Linked DNA regions of Homo sapiens: region 1 is linked to region 2. The links come from fine-mapping of genetic effects on gene expression. A gene starts in region 2. The other region holds a variant in brackets. All regions are shown on one strand. Distances are between the middles of the regions.

The links. PIP is the estimated chance that this variant, and not a neighbour inherited with it, causes the effect. A credible set is the group of variants that fine-mapping cannot tell apart.
Region 1: its variant is the best candidate, but not a certain one, in a credible set for the expression of PPDPFL in skeletal muscle (GTEx, PIP 0.61).

What each region holds. Positions count from the first base shown.
Region 1 is chr8:49,039,418-49,043,820 of GRCh38, reverse strand. No RefSeq gene overlaps it. Among named protein-coding and RNA genes, the nearest start is that of PPDPFL, 31 kb to the left of the region's middle. The variant C/T (reference allele first, on the strand shown) is at 2,452.
Region 2 is chr8:49,069,910-49,074,312 of GRCh38, reverse strand. It overlaps PPDPFL (pancreatic progenitor cell differentiation and proliferation factor like), which reads right to left and starts at 1,969. Exons shown (of 5, transcript NM_001256597.2): 1 at 1,831-1,969; 2 at 1,428-1,526; 3 at 177-254; 4 at 1-79. The coding sequence starts at 1,482.

The sequences.
Region 1 (4,403 bases), 30 kb after region 2:
GAGTCACATGACCAACAAACATTTTGTAAGCATCTTCTGCACAGCAGTGGTTGCACTGGAGGCAGCATGGGATAGAGAGCCAGCAGCTGCTCTGGAGCCAGGCAGACCTGGATTTGAATCCGGACTCTATCACCTGTGATGTTAGGCACAGTTCCCCCATCTCTGAATCCCAGTTATCTAAGATCATAACATTACCCACTCCCAAGGATCTACATAAGGACTTAAACAGAGAGCAATGTTTATAGACTGTATAGCTGGTGCTAGCACTAGATTGCCATTTATTTCCCTCATTTCCCTTCTCCTTCTGTAGGTGCTGGGGGTGCAAGGAAATATAACAGTCCCCAAGCTCTCGGGAAGTTGCAGCTCTTTGGGAGAGATAACACATGAATCGAGTTCACAAAATACAAAGCAATCAGTCGTGGGGGCAGTTACTATGTAAAAGCTGGAAATTAAAATTATTCAAATATCAATGGCAACCTAAAGCCATAATCATACCGCCAACAAGGTCTGAGATCTGTTGGCCTCCTGTGAGAAGCCCTCCTCCACAGGCTTACAGTTCCTGTGTGTAGACACATTATGCAATGACTACCGCATGAGTTCACCAGCATCTGCTCTTGACATTGGATGAGTACCCAACCATCGTTTAATGGGGTTTTCCCTTTCCTCTTCCTACTATTGCCACACGTGGCCCACACCTGTGACAAGGGAAGAAAGACTCACTGCTATTGTAGCTCAACAAGGAACAAAAGCCTGTCCCTTGCAGAGGAGGAGTCACCCCACATCTTTAGTCACAGGCTGTGGGGGAAAGAGGAGTGAGCTTCTATGGAGGCCAAGGACCCTGAGGCACATCCTGAGCTCAGACCATGGGAAAGGGACAATAAGACATTTGCCTGCTCCTATTCTGTCCTCTGTCCAGATACTACTATGTTGATGATTAGGTTGAACTATGCAAAACTGATGATTTTTGACCTACAAAAAGTGGCCCATCACATGATCCTGCCTGATCACTCCTGCCTAACTACTGAAGCTCATCTCCCCCAGGTAGGCACCTCCCTGACTGGCCCGCTGGGTTAAAAGCCCCCTGGGAATCCCCAGCACAGCCTGAAAGCTGAGCACTGCACTGACTTCACTGTGTTTAAGTGATGGGTGCTTCTGATGCCTCGTTCTTAAATCCTTTAACAGAACACAGGGGCTCCTAAAAGGGCTAATACTCCCTGTTTCCAAATCAGTGATGAGTGATTTTAAAACTACCTAAGATTGGTTCAACATTAGTTCTCAACAAGACTGAGTATTTAAAATGACACAAATAATCTATCCACTTAGGTTATTTCATACACACACACACACACACATTTTTAAAGTAATTTTGTGATTAAAATTTTAATATGCTGATGCTTTGAGTAAAGACCAGCTCTAACCATCAGCTTCATTTAAAAAATTTATTTATTAAATTTACCACTCCCTCTCCCTCTCCGTCTCCCTCGTCGTCTCTGTCTCCCGCTTTCCACGGTCTCCCACTCTCCCTCGTCTCTGTCTCCCGCTTTCCATGGTATCCCTCTGTTGCCAAGGCTGGACTGTACTGCCGCAATCTCGGCTCACTGCAACCTCCCTGCCTGATTCTCCTGCCTCAGCCTGCCAAGTGCCTGGGATTGCAGGTGCATGCCGCCACGCCTGACTGGTTTTTGTATTTTTTGGTGGAGACAGGGTTTCGCCGTGTTGGCTGGGCTGGTCTCCAGCTCCTGACCTCTAGTGATTTGCCTGCCTTGGCCTCCCGAGGTGCCAGGATTGCAGACGGAGTCTCGCTCACTCAGTGCTCAATGTTGCCCAGGCTGGAGTGCAGTGGCATGATCTCGGCTCGCTACAACCTCCACCTCCCAGCCGCCTGCCTTGGCCTCCCAAAGTGCTGAGATTGCAGCCTCTGCCTGGCCGCCACCCCGTCTAGGAAGTGAGGAGCATCTCTGCCTGGCCGCCCATCATCTGGGATGTGATGAGCCCCTCTGCCAGGCCGCCCAGTCTGGGAAGTGAGGAGCGCCTCTTCCCGGCCGTCATCCCATCTAGGAAGTGAGGAACGTCTCTGCCTGGCCACCCATCATCTGGGATGTGGAGAGCGCCTCTGCCCGGCCACCCCATCTGGAATGTGAGGAGCACCTCTGCCCGGCCGCGACCCCATCTGGGAACTGAGGAGCGCCTCTGCCCAGCCACCCCATCTGGAAGTGAGGAGCGTCTCCACCCGGCCGCCCTGTCTGGGAGGTGGGGGGCGCCCCCGCCTGGCAGCCACCCTGTCTGGGAGGTGGGGGGGTGCCCCCGCCCGGCAGCTGCCCCGTCTGGGAGGTGGGGGGCGCCTCTGCCCGGCCGCCAGGTCTGGGAAGTGAGGAGCCCCTCTGCCTGGCCGCCACCCCGTCTGGAAGGTTTACCCAACAGCTCATTGAGAACAGGCCATGATGACGATGG[C/T]GGTTTTGTCAAATAGAAAAGGGGGAAATGTGGGGAAAAGAAAGAGAGATCAGATTGTTACTGTGTCTGTGTAGAAAGAAGTAGACATAGGAGGCTCCATTTTGTTCTGTAATAAGAAAAAATTCTTCTGCCTTGGGATGCTGTTAATCTATACCTTACCCCCAACCCCGTGCTCTCTGAAACATGTGCTGTGTCAACTCAGGGTTAAATGGATTAAGGGTGGTGCAAGATGTGCTTTGTTAAACAGATGCTTGAAGGCAGCATGCTCGTTAAGAGTCATCACCACTCCCTCATCTCAAGTACCCAGGGACACAAACACTACGGAAGGCCACAGGGTCCTCTGCCTAGGAAAACCAGAGACCTTTGTTCACATGTTTACCTGCTGACCTTCTCTCCACTATTGCCCTATGACCCTGCCAAATCCCCCACTCCGAGAAACACCCAAGAATGATCAATAAATACTAAAAAAAGAAAAAAAAAAAGAATGATGGATACCTGTAAAGATGTTATTAAACGAATAATCTGAGGTTGGTAAAAAAAATAATAATAATAAAAGAGACCTGAATGGTGCATGTTTGCCCCTTCTACTATGTAAGGACACAACAAGAAGTCACCATGTCTGATCTAGGAAGCAGGCCCTCAACCAGATATTACTGGTGCCTTAAATTTGAACCTCCAAGCCTCCACAACTGTGAGAAATACATTTCTATTTTTTATGTTACCCAATCTGAGGTACTTTGTTATAGCAGTCTGAACAGTCTAAGACAGACATAACAAGGGAAAAAAATGACTTTGTGTTTCCAGTTAATAAACTTTCCATATCAGGGTGAAGTAGGACTATACCTTCATAGTCATGACTGGTACAGTTATTTAAAAAATCTCTTGACTCCATCTGCAATGCTGAAAAATGCTTTTTGGACAGAGAATAACTTTGATACAGAATGAGTATGTTACAGGAAAAAAAATTATGCTCTTTTAAATGTATTTACCTTTAAGTTGATAACTTTTAAGCAAAATACGAACATGTTTTCATTTTTCCTCTTTAAAATTATACACAAAAACATAGAAACTTATGCTATCAAAACTATAGTTATAAAATATTTTAGTCAATTAACAGAATAAATTTTTATGCTCTTATTAAAAAATAATAAAAATAAATTTACCAAAATTCTATATATTTATGGTGTACACCATGATGTTTTGAAATATGTCTACATTGTGGAATGGCTAAATCAGGCTAATTAACATACTTACCCTTTTTTGTAACGAGAACACAAAATCTACTTGCTCAGCAATTTTCAAGTATACAATACGTCATGATTATGGTCACCATGTTGTACAATAGATCCGAAATTATTCCTCCTGTCCAGCTGAAATTTTGTATCCTTTGACCAACATCTCCCCATTCCCCCAACCCCTGGCTTCTGGCAACCACCATTCTACTCTCTGCTACTATGAGCTTGATATTTTTAGATTTTAGATTTTTTTTGGAGATCATGAGGTGCTTGTCTTTTGTGCTCATCAGCTTCCTTAGTTGCGAAGAGTGGAGAGGGACTTAAGTGTGACCTTGGACTTAATTACAGTGTTTCTGGAACCTAACAACTTATTCCACAAGATTTAGGCTAGAATAACTTCCCTTTACTAATCTACTTAAAACAAACAAATGCTCTTCCCTTGATTGAACATATAACCAAGCTCACCCATCTGAAGTCCTTGCATTAATACAGTATTGGGTTTCTGCAAACAACCTCTGTTTTTAGCCACTTAGCTGATGATCCAAGGTAGAAGGCACTATGCCCATTTTCCACAGCAACCAACTTCCAGGAAGAATGTGCTTAGAAGAAGTAAACAGCAGACAAAGGGGCAGCCCAATGACACATCTATTTTGAGAGCAGTTGACCTAGATATTCTAACATTGCAATTAGGAAAGACACTGGCCTGCACTAGGCTCT
Region 2 (4,403 bases):
ATTCTCACATTTGAAAGCACAGGTTCAGAATGGAAAAACGATTTAAACCACCAGGTGGATTCTGCCACTTCAGGCAACCCTATTAAATAAAATTCATGTTACTCCTTATCAAACAAATTTGAGATTGAAAATAAAAAGAAATAATAAGGATGACACTGAAAGAAATAACTAAGTACCTTGCTGTGGTTTGTCGTCATCTATGAAGTTAACAGAATCAGAGCTAGTTAAAGAACTAACTGAAGAAACACTGGACTCTGTAGGAAACAAATGATATTAAACAAATAAATAACTGGCAACCAGACAAGCAAATCCGCATCATTTATATACAAACTGTCAAGTAGCATGGTTTGAAATCATTTATTCCTGGCTTGTGAATTCATGAATTGAAAAACTGATCAAATTACCAATCAATAGAAAGCTGCTATATTAAGAAATACTATGTTCTACTGATAAGATATACTCATTTCCAAGGCAGGAAACTCACTCTCTCCTTGGATATCAATGTTGAATTTAAAATGTATTATAAATGTTTTCAGATTCAAAAACTAAGAAAGAACAAGACCAAGAATAAATATTGTTGTACTACATTAGAAATATTACATATATGTATATTTAAAGTTCTACAGAAGTCATCAAATCTAGAAATTAAGGAATTATTTGGAAAGAACAAACATTTTGTCTTATTAGGCTTGTATTTAAAACCTATGTCTCTTATAAGATCAGAATATAAAAGTAACTCCTGTGGATAAATAACACCAAGTAAATGAGCGTAAACTTTTGTAAAATGAATAAATCAGTAGTTGTCTCTAACACTTATACTACAAACAACCCTTGAAAGAAGAGTTTTCTATGTGTTGTTGCCATAGATACTTGTAATAACTACTAATTTGGTTCTGAAATGCTTATTTTATTTTATGAAATTTCTCAATCTTCTCTAAGAAGCTACAATTTTCTATTTGGCCATGAATATGAACAGATGGATAGATTAATAAAAATAAAACTGGCCAGATAGAAGTTGGCCTATTATCCATAGCAGAAGATGGAAATTAGAAAATTTTTGAAGCAAAGTCATGCTATCTTTTCTTTTCTAAGGAGTTGAATAATACTTTATTTATGTAAAATTATCAGTTTTTAGTGAATCTTACAGAATGCAAGGTACATAAAATTAAAATGTACTAATGAAACATAAGCCGATGTTCACTGATTTTTAAGTGTCAATGGCTTCAACGATACAGCGTAGCTAGAACAAAGAAGTGCCTGTCAGCACTGGATCAGAGAAGTCCCTGAGGCCTCCTGCTTTCTTCATTGTCACCAATAGTTCTCTCCCTTAAGTTCTGAAGGTAACATGATACCTGTGTTAACAATATCCCACAAACATCACCTCAAATCATATTATCTAGGGACGTCTCTATGATGATGCAACTTACTTCGATAATACTGATTTCTGGCTAGAAGGCAACCAATGGAAGGTACGGATGCCATGGCTTTACCCGTGAGAAAGCACCCAAGAAGCTGTGAGCATTAATCTGAAACAGCGACAGAGAAAAGAGACATTGATATGAATAACAGGGAGTTTCCTTTTCTTTTTTCCACGTGACTGTTACAAAGTATTATCATTTACCATGTAATAAATATATGATAAAAGGAATTTAAATGTTTACACAAAAGTTCAACCAAATATACTGCAATAAAAAGATGCAATTAAGTAGTACATTTAGGTGAAAAAGAAAAACTATACATCCAACTATACACAATGCACAGAACTTACTCCATCTAAAACAGACCTAAAGGTCAGAGAAGTGTTAACTCAGCCATGAGGTAGTCACTCACCGATTTGTTTTCTCCAATTCGTTCTTTTAAAATAAACGTGGTTCTAAAGTTTCTTCAGAAAATACATGCTTTGAAAGAACCAGTTCTTAGGGATTGAAGAGAGGCTGCACCACATACGCAGGGCCAGTGGTAGGTCCGTGATGGGAGACCCCTGAGCACACCTTATATTTAGAAGCCCCAGGCTGGCTGGAACCTGAGCTGTGGGTGACTCGGAGTGAGGTGGGCACACAGCCAGCCAGAGGCAGCAAGCAAGCACTCTCTGCACGTCTGCCCTCCAGCCTGCCAAAGGCCCTCCGAACGCAGCAGCCTGCCAAGTTTGGCTGCAGTCAGCAGGGAAGGACTTGGCCCAATGCTCTTTTGGACTCAGCCTCTTTAATATCACAACCGCTGGTGACTACAGAGAGGGAGGCGATACACAAGTGTCTCCTCAGCCTTAGATACAATCACACACTCCACCTGCAGCACCACGCTGGGCACGTGTGGGATGTACAAGCAGCCTGCTATCTGGCTGGGGAGACTGAACATACCTGCCCACAGTTTCAGTGAGGCAAGGCAGAGTCCCACGGTCAAAGCGGAGCAAGAAAGCACTCTAGGAAACATTGAAGTCTTCCTGAAAGTGGGACAGAGTCAGTGGAACTTGATGGACAGATGGACAGTGAGTTAGAAATTCTAGCAGGAATGACAAGAGAAATGGAAATCATGGGTAATAAGAGGATATTTATGACATTGTATCAATATCATTTACTGATACAAAAGCTAAATTTTATTCTGATTTTAGTAACAAATTTCTCGGATAGATTGCTTTGCCCTTTTTTTTTTCTTTTCCTGAGGCGGAGTCTCACTCTGTCGCCCAGGCTGGAGTGCAGTGGCGCGATTTGGGCTCACTGCAAGCTCCGCCTCCCAGGTTCACGCCATTCTCCTGCCTCAGCCTCCCCAGTAGCTGGGACTACAGGCACGCGCTACCATGCCTGGCTAATTTTTGTATTTTTAGTAGAGATGGGGTTTCACCGTGTTAGCCAGGATGGTCTCGATCTCCTGACCTCGTGATCCACCCGCCTCAGCCTCCCAAAGTGCTGGGATTACAGGCGTAAGCCACTGCGCCCGGCCTGCTTTGCCCTTTCACAGACTCAGTTGACTTACGCATCAAATTGTGGCTCCCTTTACATTGAGGGGTGATTGTGGCCATTGCTGATTCGATTTGTTCAGTGGCTATTGGTTGTGTATTCCTAACACAATTTTTGTAGCGTATACATTGCTAAAAAATTATTCATGTCAGCTAGGTTTTCAAATGTATTCAAAACATTTACTGTAGTATGCCATCATGGTTCCTTTCAAATATTACTCCAGACACAGGACAAAAAGACAGCTACATGATCCCACTTACATGTGGAATCTAAAAAACTGAAACAGACAACAGAAGAGTGATTACCCGAGGCAGGGAGATCGGGGAGTCAGGAGATGTTGGCCAAGGGTACAAAAGCTGCAGTTATGTGGGATGAATACTTCTAGAGATCTAATGTACAGCAGGATTGTAGCTAATACTGTTCCACTGCGTACTGGAAATTTTCCAAGAGAGCAGATTTCAGGTGCTCTTAACACACACACACACTCATGCACACATACAAAATAAAAGAACCATATGATATGGCTGTGTTAATTTGCTTGAGTGTAGTAATCATTTTAGCATGTATAGATATTTCTAAATGTCATATCATGTTGTACATCTTAAATATACACAATTAAATAAAAACAAAATAAACAAATAATAAATATCTACTTCACCTGACCGTCCTTCCTTTTTGTTGTTAATATCATTTATTTAGGCCTCTTCTCCCTCTCTGCTTTAATAATTAGTTTTGCTACACCTTTGTCTACTAAAGCCAATTTTTTCAAAGAAATATTTAATCCTCTCTTGTCTCTTGGTTTTGTATTTCTTTATTTTCTGTTATGCTTTAATTCTTCTTCCTTTTAGTTACTCCAAAATTACACTTCTTGTCATTTATTTCAAAATATTTTATAACTACAATTATCACATTTCTTGAGTGTTTAGGAATGCTTCCTCTTTTCCAAAAGTGTAAGACTTTCTTTAACTTTGAAGTTCAAGGGTACATGTGCAGGTTTGTTACACAGGTAACACGTGTTGTGGCATTTGCTGTACAGATTCTTTCATTACCCAGGTATTAAGCCAAGTACCCGTTAGTTATTATCCTGATCCTCCCCCTCCTCCCGCCCTTCACCCTCCAATAGACCCCAGTGTCTGTTGTGCCCCTCGATGTGTCTATGTGTTCTCATTATTTAACTCCCACTTTTACGTGAGAACATGTGGTATTTAGTTTTCTGTTTCTGTGTCAGTTTGCTAAGGATCATGGCCTCCAGCCCCATTCGTCTTCCTGCAAAGGACATGATCTCATTCTTTCTTAGGGCTGCATAATATTCCATGGTGTCTATGTATCACATTTTCTTTATCCAGTCTACCACTGATGGGCATCTAGGTTAATTCCATGTCATTGCTATTGTGAATAGTGCTGCAATGAACATACATGTGCATTGAGATGGAGTCTCCCTCCGTTGCC